Linked DNA regions of Homo sapiens: region 2 is linked to region 1. The links come from fine-mapping of genetic effects on gene expression. Tissue or cell type: hypothalamus. Region 1 holds a variant in brackets; the other region holds the start of a gene. All regions are shown on one strand. Distances are from middle to middle.

The links. PIP is the estimated chance that this variant, and not a neighbour inherited with it, causes the effect.
Region 2: it holds the start of LTC4S, and the variant in region 1 is fine-mapped to the expression of LTC4S in hypothalamus (GTEx, PIP 0.96).

What each region holds. Positions count from the first base shown.
Region 1 is chr5:180,101,284-180,106,427 of GRCh38, reverse strand. It overlaps RASGEF1C (RasGEF domain family member 1C), which reads left to right. Exons shown (of 14, transcript NM_175062.4): 13 at 4,285-4,357; 14 at 4,903-5,144. The coding sequence ends at 4,927. Among named protein-coding and RNA genes, the nearest start is that of RNF130, 32 kb to the right of the region's middle. The variant G/A (reference allele first, on the strand shown) is at 3,150.
Region 2 is chr5:179,791,586-179,796,729 of GRCh38, reverse strand. LTC4S (leukotriene C4 synthase) reads right to left here and starts at 2,744. Exons shown (of 5, transcript NM_145867.2): 1 at 2,592-2,744; 2 at 1,047-1,146; 3 at 874-944; 4 at 708-789; 5 at 83-477. The coding sequence starts at 2,649. The coding sequence ends at 336. RefSeq lists silencers at 104-315, 160-319, 340-389, 430-1,139, 2,685-2,754 and enhancers at 949-1,621, 3,105-3,254, 3,275-3,354, 2,929-3,556.

The sequences.
Region 1 (5,144 bases):
ATAGCACCAAATGCATACATTAGAAAAAAGGGGAAGTGTCAAATCAATAATCTAAGTTCCTACATCAAGAATCTAGAAAAAGAGGAGCAAAATAAACTCAAAGCCAGCAGCAGGATGGAAATAAGAGCAGAAATCAATGAACCCGTAAGCAGAAAAACAATAAAGTTAATCAAAGGGCTGGTTCTTTGAAAAGAACAATAAAATTGCTGCCATCTAGCAAAGAACCTCTTGACAAAGAAAAGGAAAAGACACAAATTACTGATACAGTAGTCCCCCCTTATCTGTAGTTACCCTCAGTCAACCGTGGTCTGAACATACTAAATGGAAAATTCCAGAAATAATTCATAAGTTTTGAATTGTGCACCATTCTGAGTAGTGTGATGAAATCACACGTCATCCCACTGGGTTCCTCCTGGGACATGATTCATCCCTTTGCCCGGCATTTGTGCTGTGTTTATGCTGCCTATCAGTCACTTAGTGGCCACCTCAGCTATCAGATCAACTGTCAGTGTCACTGTGCTTGTGTCCAGGTAACCCTCATTTTACTTCTTTTTTTTTTTGAGACAGAGTCTCGCTCTGTCACCCAGGCTGGAGTGCAGTGGCACGATCTCGGCTCACTGCAGCCTCTGCCTCCCAGGTTCAAGCGATTCTCCTCCCTCAGCCACCCAAGTCACTGGGATTACAGGCGTGAGCCACCACGCCCAGCTAATTTTTGTATTTTTAGTAGAGACGGGGTTTCACCATGTTGGTCAGGCTGGTCTCGAACTCCTGACCTCAAGTGATCCACCAGCCTCAGCCTCCCAAAGTGCTAGGATTACAGGTGTGAGCCACCGCGCCCAGCCTATTTTACTTCTTTTTTTTTTTTTGAGACAGAGTCTTGCTCTGTCACCCAGGATGGAGTGCAGTGGCGCAGTCGCGGCTCACTGCAACCTCCGCCTCCCGGGTTCACACCATTCTCCTGCCTCAGCCTCCCGAGTAGCTGGGACTACAGGCGCCCGCCACCACACTTGGCTAATTTTTTGTATTTTTAGTAGAGACGGGGTTTCACCGTGTTAGCCAGGATGGTCTCCATCTCCTGACCTCGTGATCTGCCCACCTCCGCCTCCCAAAGTGCTGGGATGACAGGCGTGAGCCACCGCGCCTGGCAAAGTACCTGAGCAGTGATGCAGGCAGTTCAGATATGGCAAAGGGAAGCTGTAAAGTGCTTCCGTTAAATGATGAGGTGAAAGTTCTCAAGGGAAAAAATTGTATGCTGAGATTACTAAGATCTACAGTAAGAACAAACTTATCCATGAAATTCTGAAGAAAGAAAAATAAATTCTTGCTAGTTTTGCTGTTGCATCTCAAACTGCAGAAGTGCCTGATGAGTGCTTAGTTAAGATGGAAAAGGGATCCAAGACAAGTATATACAGGATTCCGTACTATCTGCAGTTTCAGGCAGCCACCAGGGGACTTAGAATGTATCCCCCACAGATAATAGGGGACTACTGTACCAGGAGTAAAACAGGATATCACTAACGACTACAGACATTGAAAAGATAATAAGGGAATACGACAAACAACTCCACACACACGAATTTAACAATTTAAATGAAATGAACTAATTCCTTAAAAAGCACAAATTACCACAACTTGACATAAAATAGATAATTTGAATAGCCCTGTGACTATTAAATAAATTGAATTTATAATTTTAAAACTCCCAAAAATGAAGTCTACAGGCTCAAATGGTTACACTGGAGACTTCTACCAAATGCTTAAAGAATTAACACCAATTCTCCACAATCTCTTCCAGAAAGTGGCAGAGGAGGGAGCCTCCTGATGAAGCCAGTTGTCTTAGTCAGTTTGAGCTGCCGTAACAAAATACCTTAGACTGGGTAATTCATAAACAACAGACATTTTCTTACCACTGAGTTTATATATATATATCTACAGTTTCAGAGGCCAGAAATCCAAGATCAAGGCAGATTCTGTGTCTGGTGAGGGCTGCTCTCTGCTTCTAAGGTGGAGCCTTCTTGCTGTGTCCTCGCATGGCAGAAGGGGCAAATGCTGTGTCCTCATTTGGCAGATGGGCAAAAAGGGGCCAGACTGGCTCCCTCCAGCCCTTTCATAAGGGCACTAATCCCATCCATGAGGGTGGAACCTCATGGCCTAATCGCCTCCTCCAGACCCCACCTGTTAGTTAACACTGTTGCATTCGGGATTATGTTTCAACATGAATTTTTCAGGGCACAAACATTCAAACCCTGGCACCAGTATTACCCTGATACTAAAACCAAAGACAGTACCAAAAAAAGAAAATACAGGCCAATATCCCTCATGAATATAGACACAAGAATCCTTAACAAAATAAGCAAATAGAGTTCAGCAATATGTAAAAATAATTATACGTCATGACTAAGTGGGTTCATTCCAAGGATGCAAAGCTGTTCAATATTTGAAATTCAATCAGTGTGATTCACTATACTAAACAGCTAAAGAAGAAAAGACACATGATTATATTAATCAATGCAGAAAAGGCATTTGACAAATTTCTACACGCATTTATGGTAAAAACTCTCAGAAACTAGTAATAGAAGGGAATTTATCAGCATGACAAGTTGCATCCACAGAAACGCTTCTGCAAACATTATATTTAACAGCAGAAGATTTAATGCTTTCCTCGTAAGACCAATAACAATGAAAGGATGTTCACTCTTCCCCACTCTTAGTCATCATAGTAATGGAAGAACTAGTTAGTGCGATAAGGCAAGAACAGGAAGTAACACACAAATCAGAAAGAAAAATTAACACTGTCCCTATTTGCAGATGATGAGGAAAAAAAATCCCAAAGAATCTACAAAAACCCCTAGAACTAATAAGGGAGTTCAGCAAGGTTGCAGGATACAAGACACACATGCAAAAATCAACCATGTTTCTACGTATGAGCAATAAACATGTGCACGCTGAAACTAAAATGATAATACCATTTACAGTCACTCACATGAAATATGTAGGTGGAAATGGAACAGAACACGCACAGGACGTGTACGCTAAAAGTTAATGCTGATGTGCCGGGTGCGGTGGCTCACGCCTGTAATCTCAGCACTCTGGGAGGCCGAGGCGGGCGGATCACAAGGTCAGGAGATCGAGACCATCCTGGCTAACAC[G/A]GTGAAACCCCATCTCTACTAAAAATACAAAACATTAGCCGGGCGTGGTGGTGGGTACCTGTAGTCCCAGCCACTCGGGAGGGTGAGGCAGGAGAATGGTGTGAACCCGGGAGGCAGAGCTTGCAGTGAGCCGAGATCGCGCCACTGCACTCCAGCCTGGGCGACAGAGCGAGACTTCTGTCTCAAAAAAAAGTTAATGCTGATGAAAGAAATCAAGAAAGATGTAGATAAATGGAGACATAGGATGTTCTCGAACGCAAAGACTGCATAGCAAAGGTATTAATTCTCCTCCCAGAATTTAAGTACAGGTTTAATGCAATTCCTACCCAAATCCCAGCAAGACTCTTTGTAAGATAGAGACGAGATTCTCCTAAAATTTGTATCGGAAGTCAAAGGAACTAGAATTGCTAAAACAATCTTGAAAAGGATTCGTGGGAGGAATGAGTCTGCTTGATGTTAAGGCTGATATGATAGCGCTATGGTCGTTAAGACAGCACAGTATTAGGGGAGGGATGGACGCATGAATCAATGGGACAGAATAGAGAACCCAGAAAGAGACCCACGCAAATATACCAGGTGATTTTTGACAAAAACAAAACAAAACAAAACAAAACCCAATGGAGGAAAGCTAGCCCTCCAACAAACAGTGCCGGAGCATCCGGACATCCACAGACCAAAACATGAACCCCAGCCCAAGCCTCACACCTTATACAAATAATTAGCTCAGCATGGATCACAGACTAAAATGTAAAATGTAAACCTATACAGCTTTTAGCAGGGAAAAGCAAGAGATAACCCTCAGAATATAGGGCTAGATAAAGAGTTTCTTATTCCAAATATGCCACTATGATATGGCCCAGCCATTGCATTCTTGGGCAGTTAGTTATTCCAGAGAAATAAAGACTCATGTATTTATACATCATTTGAAGTGAGTTTCACACAAAAGCAAAAGCCCTCACGCAAATGTTATAGAACTACTGTCGTTAAGACAGCACAGTATTAGGGGAGGGATGGACACATGGATCAATGGGACAGAATAGAGAACCCAGAAAGAGACCCACGCAGATATAGCAGGTGTAGAACAGGTTATTATCATCAACCATAATTGTGAAATTTCACTTCATTTTCTGTCTAGGTCTTTATTTGGCTTCTTACGAAAGTGAGAGCCCAGAGAACCAAACAGAAAAAGAAAGATGGAAAGCTCTAAGGTGAGTCTTCCTGCCAAGGTGGGGCCTGGGGGCTGCTTGGGATGGAAAGCTCTAAGGTGAGTCTTCGCGCCGAGGTGGGACCCGGGGACTGCTTGGGACCAGGACAGGGCCGAGGGGCTTCAGAGATACCCGGCTCACCAGCCTCCTGGGAGCCTCAGCAGCCCACAGTGGGGATCAAGCCACAGTCATAGGGGTGAGGAGAGGAGGCTGAGCCTGTGACTCCCCCACGGCTGGTGGCTGCCTCTGTGTGCAGTCAAGATGCATGTCCCAGGGACAGGGACTCCCAGTCTATATTTGTATGCCAGACAGTGGGACACACACCCCACCTCCTTCTTGCTCGGCGTGTTAACACGTCCAAGTGGCGGTCGGAAATGATCCATAGCAATGGACTTCGAGGGCTGAGCCCCAGGGATTTGCAGAACACCCCTCTGGGGCAGGAGGCTGGCTCTCCTCAGCGCACTGAGAAAGTGGCTGTGCTGGAGAGCAGTCTAACTGGGGTGGGGAGCTCCAGGCTCTCACCGCTCCCGACATGCTTAAATCTGCAGATCTTCTATTTTGGGGAAGACATGAAAGCGCTGAGCTGAGGGACGAGGAAGAGCTGGAGCCCGCAGAAGCCGTCCACAGCCCTGCCTCAGTGGCCCAGTGGGCAGAGGCCAGGGAGTGCCTCACTATTTTGCAAATGCCGACCCTGTGGCCTGCTGCCCGCCCCCCCCCCCCCCACAGTGGCCATACGGGCACAGGAGACCTTTTATGGGACTTTGGCCCTGGCAGGACCCAGGGCCTCCAG
Region 2 (5,144 bases), 310 kb after region 1:
ACTGGGCGGCCTTGTGACCCCGAGGCTGAGTAGGGAGTGGGGTAGGAGGTGAAGACCGGATCCAGTCCCGCCCCAGGGGGAGGGCTCGTTCCTTCGCAGCCACTCTCACGCCGCCACTAGGAAGCCCGCCCCGGGCTGCCCGGACTCGGGCTGGGCCCCTCCAGGCTCCGTAGCCCGCGGTGCGCCACCCCCGCGGACCCAGAGAACGCAGCCCGGGTCTCGGTCACTAGAACTTTAATGATAGAGACTAGGATGCGGAAGCGAGCGCCCCTCCCCGGGGCAGCTGGAGGCTCCGGCTCTTCTTTCCCGGCTCCGTCGGCCCGGGGGCCTTGGTCTCAGGCCCACGGCAGCAGCGTCCGGAGCCGTCCGAGGAGCGCGGCGCGCAGCGCGGCCGGGAGGAAGTGGGCGAGCAGGCCGAGCGCAGCCAGCGCCACCAGCAGCCAGAGGGCGCGCGCGCTCGCGTACAGCGGTGCCAGCCTGCGGGCGGCGGTCAGCGGGGAGGTGGCGCGAGGAGGCCCGCTTCTTCCCCGCCGCAACCCTGGCCCCACGGGGACTTCCTCTGGCCGCCGCCAGGGCTCGCCCACCGAATCCCCAAAGGCGCTGGGCTCCGGCCCGTCGCCCGCCCCCAGCTTCGGTCCCGCTCCCCAGGAGCCCCGCCCGCCCGCGATCTTTCCCCGGCCCCGCCCCGCTCCCCGCCCGGCCCTCACCTGAGCTGCGCGGAGCGCGCGTAGCCCTGGAAGTAGCGGAGGCGCGCGAACAGGTAGACCAGGCCGCACAGGGCCGCCGCCCCTGCGAGAGGTACGCACGGGCCTGGTGAGCGCCCTGCGCGGGTCCCGGGGGTCCAGCGCGTGCGCCCCTGCCCCACACCCCGACCTTCATGAAAGAAGATGCCGGCGACCCAGAGCGTGGCGAGGAACAGCGGGAAGTACTCGCTGCAGTTCACCCTGCGGTGGGCGGGTGGGATGAGCGCGCCGGCCGGGATGGTCCTGCGACCCGGACCCGCCTGGGGCTCGCTCCCCGCCCCGCGCCCTCCCGCCGCGCCTCACTGGGCTCGGTAGACGCGCTCGAACTCGGGTGGGCCGGTGGTGAGCGGCGGCGACACGCGGAAGGCCCTGCGCGCCGAGATCACCTGCAGGGAGAAGTAGGCTGGGGGAGGAGGGGGAGCGGGAGTCAGGTCTGGACACCCGAAGCCCCAGAGATGGGAGTGGGAGGGATCCTGCAATCTGGCCCTTCACTTGGCCGTGTCCTCTCCTCCCTAAGGCGGAACCCCGCCCCCTCCCCGCCCGAGGAGACCTCTCGTCTCACCCATCCCTGGCCTGCCCTGTGTCCCTGACATTCAGCGAGGAGGGCAGGGCTGAAGCCTGGGGCGCAGAGAGGCCCTGTCCCAACCTGTGAGTGTATGGGGGAGGGTGAGTGATTCAGGCACAGGGACACCTGCTCCGCGAGAGAGACCACTTGAGTCCTTGTTTCTGAATCATTTCACTCTCAAAACACAGGCAAATGCAGCTTTCAGGTCCCTGGCCAGGAAGTGCCTCGGGAGTCTGAGGGCAGAGCTGGCTGCATCCTCCCAGGTGCAAGGAAGCACACTCCCTGTAGCTAACAGTCCCTGGTCACCCACCTACCAGCGCCCACCAGCAGGGCCCTCTGACCCTGCCTCAGGCCGGGATCACTAAAGCCTGCGTCCCTGTGCCTCCAAACCTCAGTTTCTCTGTTCCTGCATTCCGGTCCCAGGCCTAAATCTGACAGACACCTTCTCTCCTGCTCCCAGGAGGTTGCAGCTGGGACTCTCCTAGCCTAACCCCAGGACCCCAGGGCTGGGGTAGTTGCAGAGGGTGGGCTGGCCCTAAAGTTTCTCTGTGGGCAGGAGCCCTTCTCTTGGTCAGGTGAGGCCAGGCCAGACCACACACAGACCAGTGCTGGCTGTGCGCTCCCTCCCCAGACCTCCCGTCGGACCATCTCCCCCTGAGTCCTGCAGCCCTGGCACCTTTGGTTCTGGGCCCTCTGCAGATGGGTGTCACAGGGTGGCCATCCAGCTCAGTGCAGGAGCAGCTGGAGGTCAGGCTGGCCTGTCTGTTCAGCCCCTTCAGAGCCCCCTCCCCAGGCTGTGCCTTATCCTAGCCCACACACTGTGGAGTAGTGGTGTCTCTTAGGTGGCAAGGATATCTGGCCAAGGAATGTGTCCTTTAGGGCCAGTCTGAGAAAGGCATTAAGCAGGCTCTTTTTAGGGGGCTGGAGGAAGGAGTCCCACCTCTACCCTGCTCCACGTGGTCCCAGTATGGAGGTGCCTTTGAAGCAGAGCCAGGGAATGGGGGCCGCTTGCTGGGACGCCCAGAGAGGGGACAGCTGGAAAGAGCAGAGATCAGCTTCCCCAAGCCCATGGCTATCCTACCATTTGTCCTGGCACCCTTGCCACCCCCAAGTCCTACAGCTCTCACAGCCAGGTGCCCCCCAGTTCCCTGAAAGTCCCCACCCTCTTCCAGCTTGGGCCTGGGCTGGAGTCCCCACCTCTGCCCTCCACCTGGGCCTAGGGGGCAGAGGGCAAGCTGTAGGGATCTAAGGCCCACCCTCTTCCTAGATAGGAACCAGCCCACCTTGCAGCAGGACTCCCAGGAGGGTGACAGCAGCCAGTAGAGCTACCTCGTCCTTCATGGTACCGTCGGTGTGGTGGCACGGGCTGTGTGTGAAGGCGAGCTGGGGAACGCTTAGCCCCGTCTGCTGCTCAGAGGACGGCCCAGGAGAGGAAGAGCAGCCTCGGTGCTCTCCCCGCCCCATCTCAGTGGAGGGGGTGCACGGGGGTGTGACCATACCACACAGAGCCAGGGAGCCAGGCCAAGCCAGCAGGGAGGAAACCAAAGTCTGGGCAGGGGAGAGCAGCTAGCTGGAGACCGCCTCACCACTTCCTGCTTGTTCGTGCCCCTTCCTTGCCTAGTCCCGCGTGGCAGAGCCCAAGCTGTCCATCTGGGTCAGCTCCAGCTGTGGGTGTGCCCCCTGCTGCACCACCCCACTTTCTCCAGGGCCTTGCAGACCCCCACATCATGCTGGAGCCAGCCCCAGGCTCCCGGCTAACTCCTCCACCCACCTTATCTGTTCCCTGTCCCCATCCAGGCTGTTCCTGGCAACCCCTGCCAAACCCTCCTCTGCGGAAGCCCTTCCCAGTGCCTTTGGCTTCAGAATGGAGTCCCAGCGCCCCCCCAGCCACACTGGGCCCCACAAGCTCTTTCTCCTTCAGGAAACCTCATGCCTGCCAGCCTTAGTCGTTGTAGGGGTTCCATGCACAAGGGCCACCCTGCCAGGAGGAAACCTGTCCAAGGCCCCCTGGGTGGCGGGAGGGTCAGCCCTTGTGGGCCATCCCTCTCCCAGGCCTCTCTTGGGCCTCCCACAACAGTCACCTGCTGTGTCTTTCTGCCCCGCAGCCCTCTTGCCTCAAGGTAACAACCCTCCACCACCTTCCTAGACGGCTGCCCTCCCCACACTCAGGCCCTGTGGTCTGGACAGTGCTGACTCCTGCCCCTTCCAGGCCTGTGAGATGGACACTGAGCCAAGGCTGACTCAAGATGGTGAGATGTAGTTCTGGAAACTTCCTTAGGACTTTGGGACAGGAAACTCAGAGTGGGGAGGGGGACTACGGCGGGCCACCCTGAGGACAGAGCCCACGCAGGGCCAGGTGGAGAGGAAAGGTGGCACCCGAGGACTCCTGCCTGGAGTTCTGGGTGTCTCCCTCGCCCCGCCTGGAGCGCCCCCGGCCGCCCCCCTCGCCCTGCCTGGAGTGCCCCTGGCCGCCAGCCTTCCCAGTTGGGCCTAACGGTCACTTCCTCTTTTGGCTTGAGTGGGTTTGCGGTGGCTTTTGGTCAGAAGTGGCAAAGTCCAGACTGACCCAGAAGCACGGGCAGGAGCTGGGGGAGGCCACAGGCCGTGCTGCAGGGGTCGGGCCGCATGGTTCTGCCCTCGCACCTGGTCCTTCCTTGCTGCCCCAAGCTCAGCTCCAGCCTGAGGCTCGGAGCCTGTTGGGCTCTCTCAGAATCCCTTCTTCCTCCTCTGGGTATCGCCCCTGCCCCCGGAAACCAGATATGCCCCAGCTGGGGGCTCTGTGAGCTCCTCCAGGGCAGGGGCCAGGGCTCAGGCCCGGCCCCTGCTTTAGACCAAGCTGTGACAGTCATCTTGGGGCTCAGTGATGGAGGACTGCCTCCTAGATCCCGGACACAGATGTAGTGCCAGGGAGCGATGGTGGCCGCGTCCTCAGACTCTGCCCACTCAGCCTCCTTCCTCCCTGAAACCTGCCCCACAGGGCCTGCCTGAAGGGTGGGATGCAGCCCACCACGCAGGGGTTGACGCTGGTGCCAGTGGGCTGTGCCCAGGGTGTCTGTGTGCACCACGCATACATACCTGCATGCCCCTTGGTCAGTTGTCACACACCCATGTCTCTGTGCTTGTGGGTGTCCAAGTGTCTTCGTGAGTCCAGGCCCTCCTGTCAGCCAAGCTCTCATTTCCTCCAAGGCCTGAATGTCCTCCCGTCGGAGTTCATCCCCTCAGTCCACAGCAGGAAGCCAAAGCCTAACATCAGCAGCTTCTGAGGAAGTCCCTTGGCAGATGTGCAGGGCAGGGACCTGGGTCTTGGCCCCGGGAGCCCTCCCCGGGTCTCTTGGTTCCCACCTCCCTCCCTCTGAGCCTGCCCAGGCTGTCAGGGCCCTGCCTGGGCTCAAGCCAGCTCAAGCTGACAGGAGGGCCAGCCAAGCCCCCACCCCTGCTCGGGCCACCCAGCTTCCATCTTCCTGTCTAGCTCTGGAGGCACCAGCATCAGGAGGGAAGCGAAAGCTCCTCCCTGAGCCTCCACAGAGCCCTAAGGAGTCTCTGATGCCCACTCACCAGGACCTCTGGGCGGCAGAAAGGCCGGCAGAACCATTGCACAGAGAAGAAATCAGAACTTCTGTGGAGTGGATCATAGGCAGTGCACAACTCAGACCCTGAGCTTGAACAAGAAAGTTTATTTAGAAATTATTTTATATTTGAGACAGGATCGTGCTCTGTTGCCCAGGCTGGAGTGCAGTGGCTCAACATGCCTCACTGCATCCTCAAACTCCCGGGCTCAAGCAATCCTCCCACCTCAAGCCTCTCAAGTAGCTGGGACCACAGGCTCTAATTTTTTT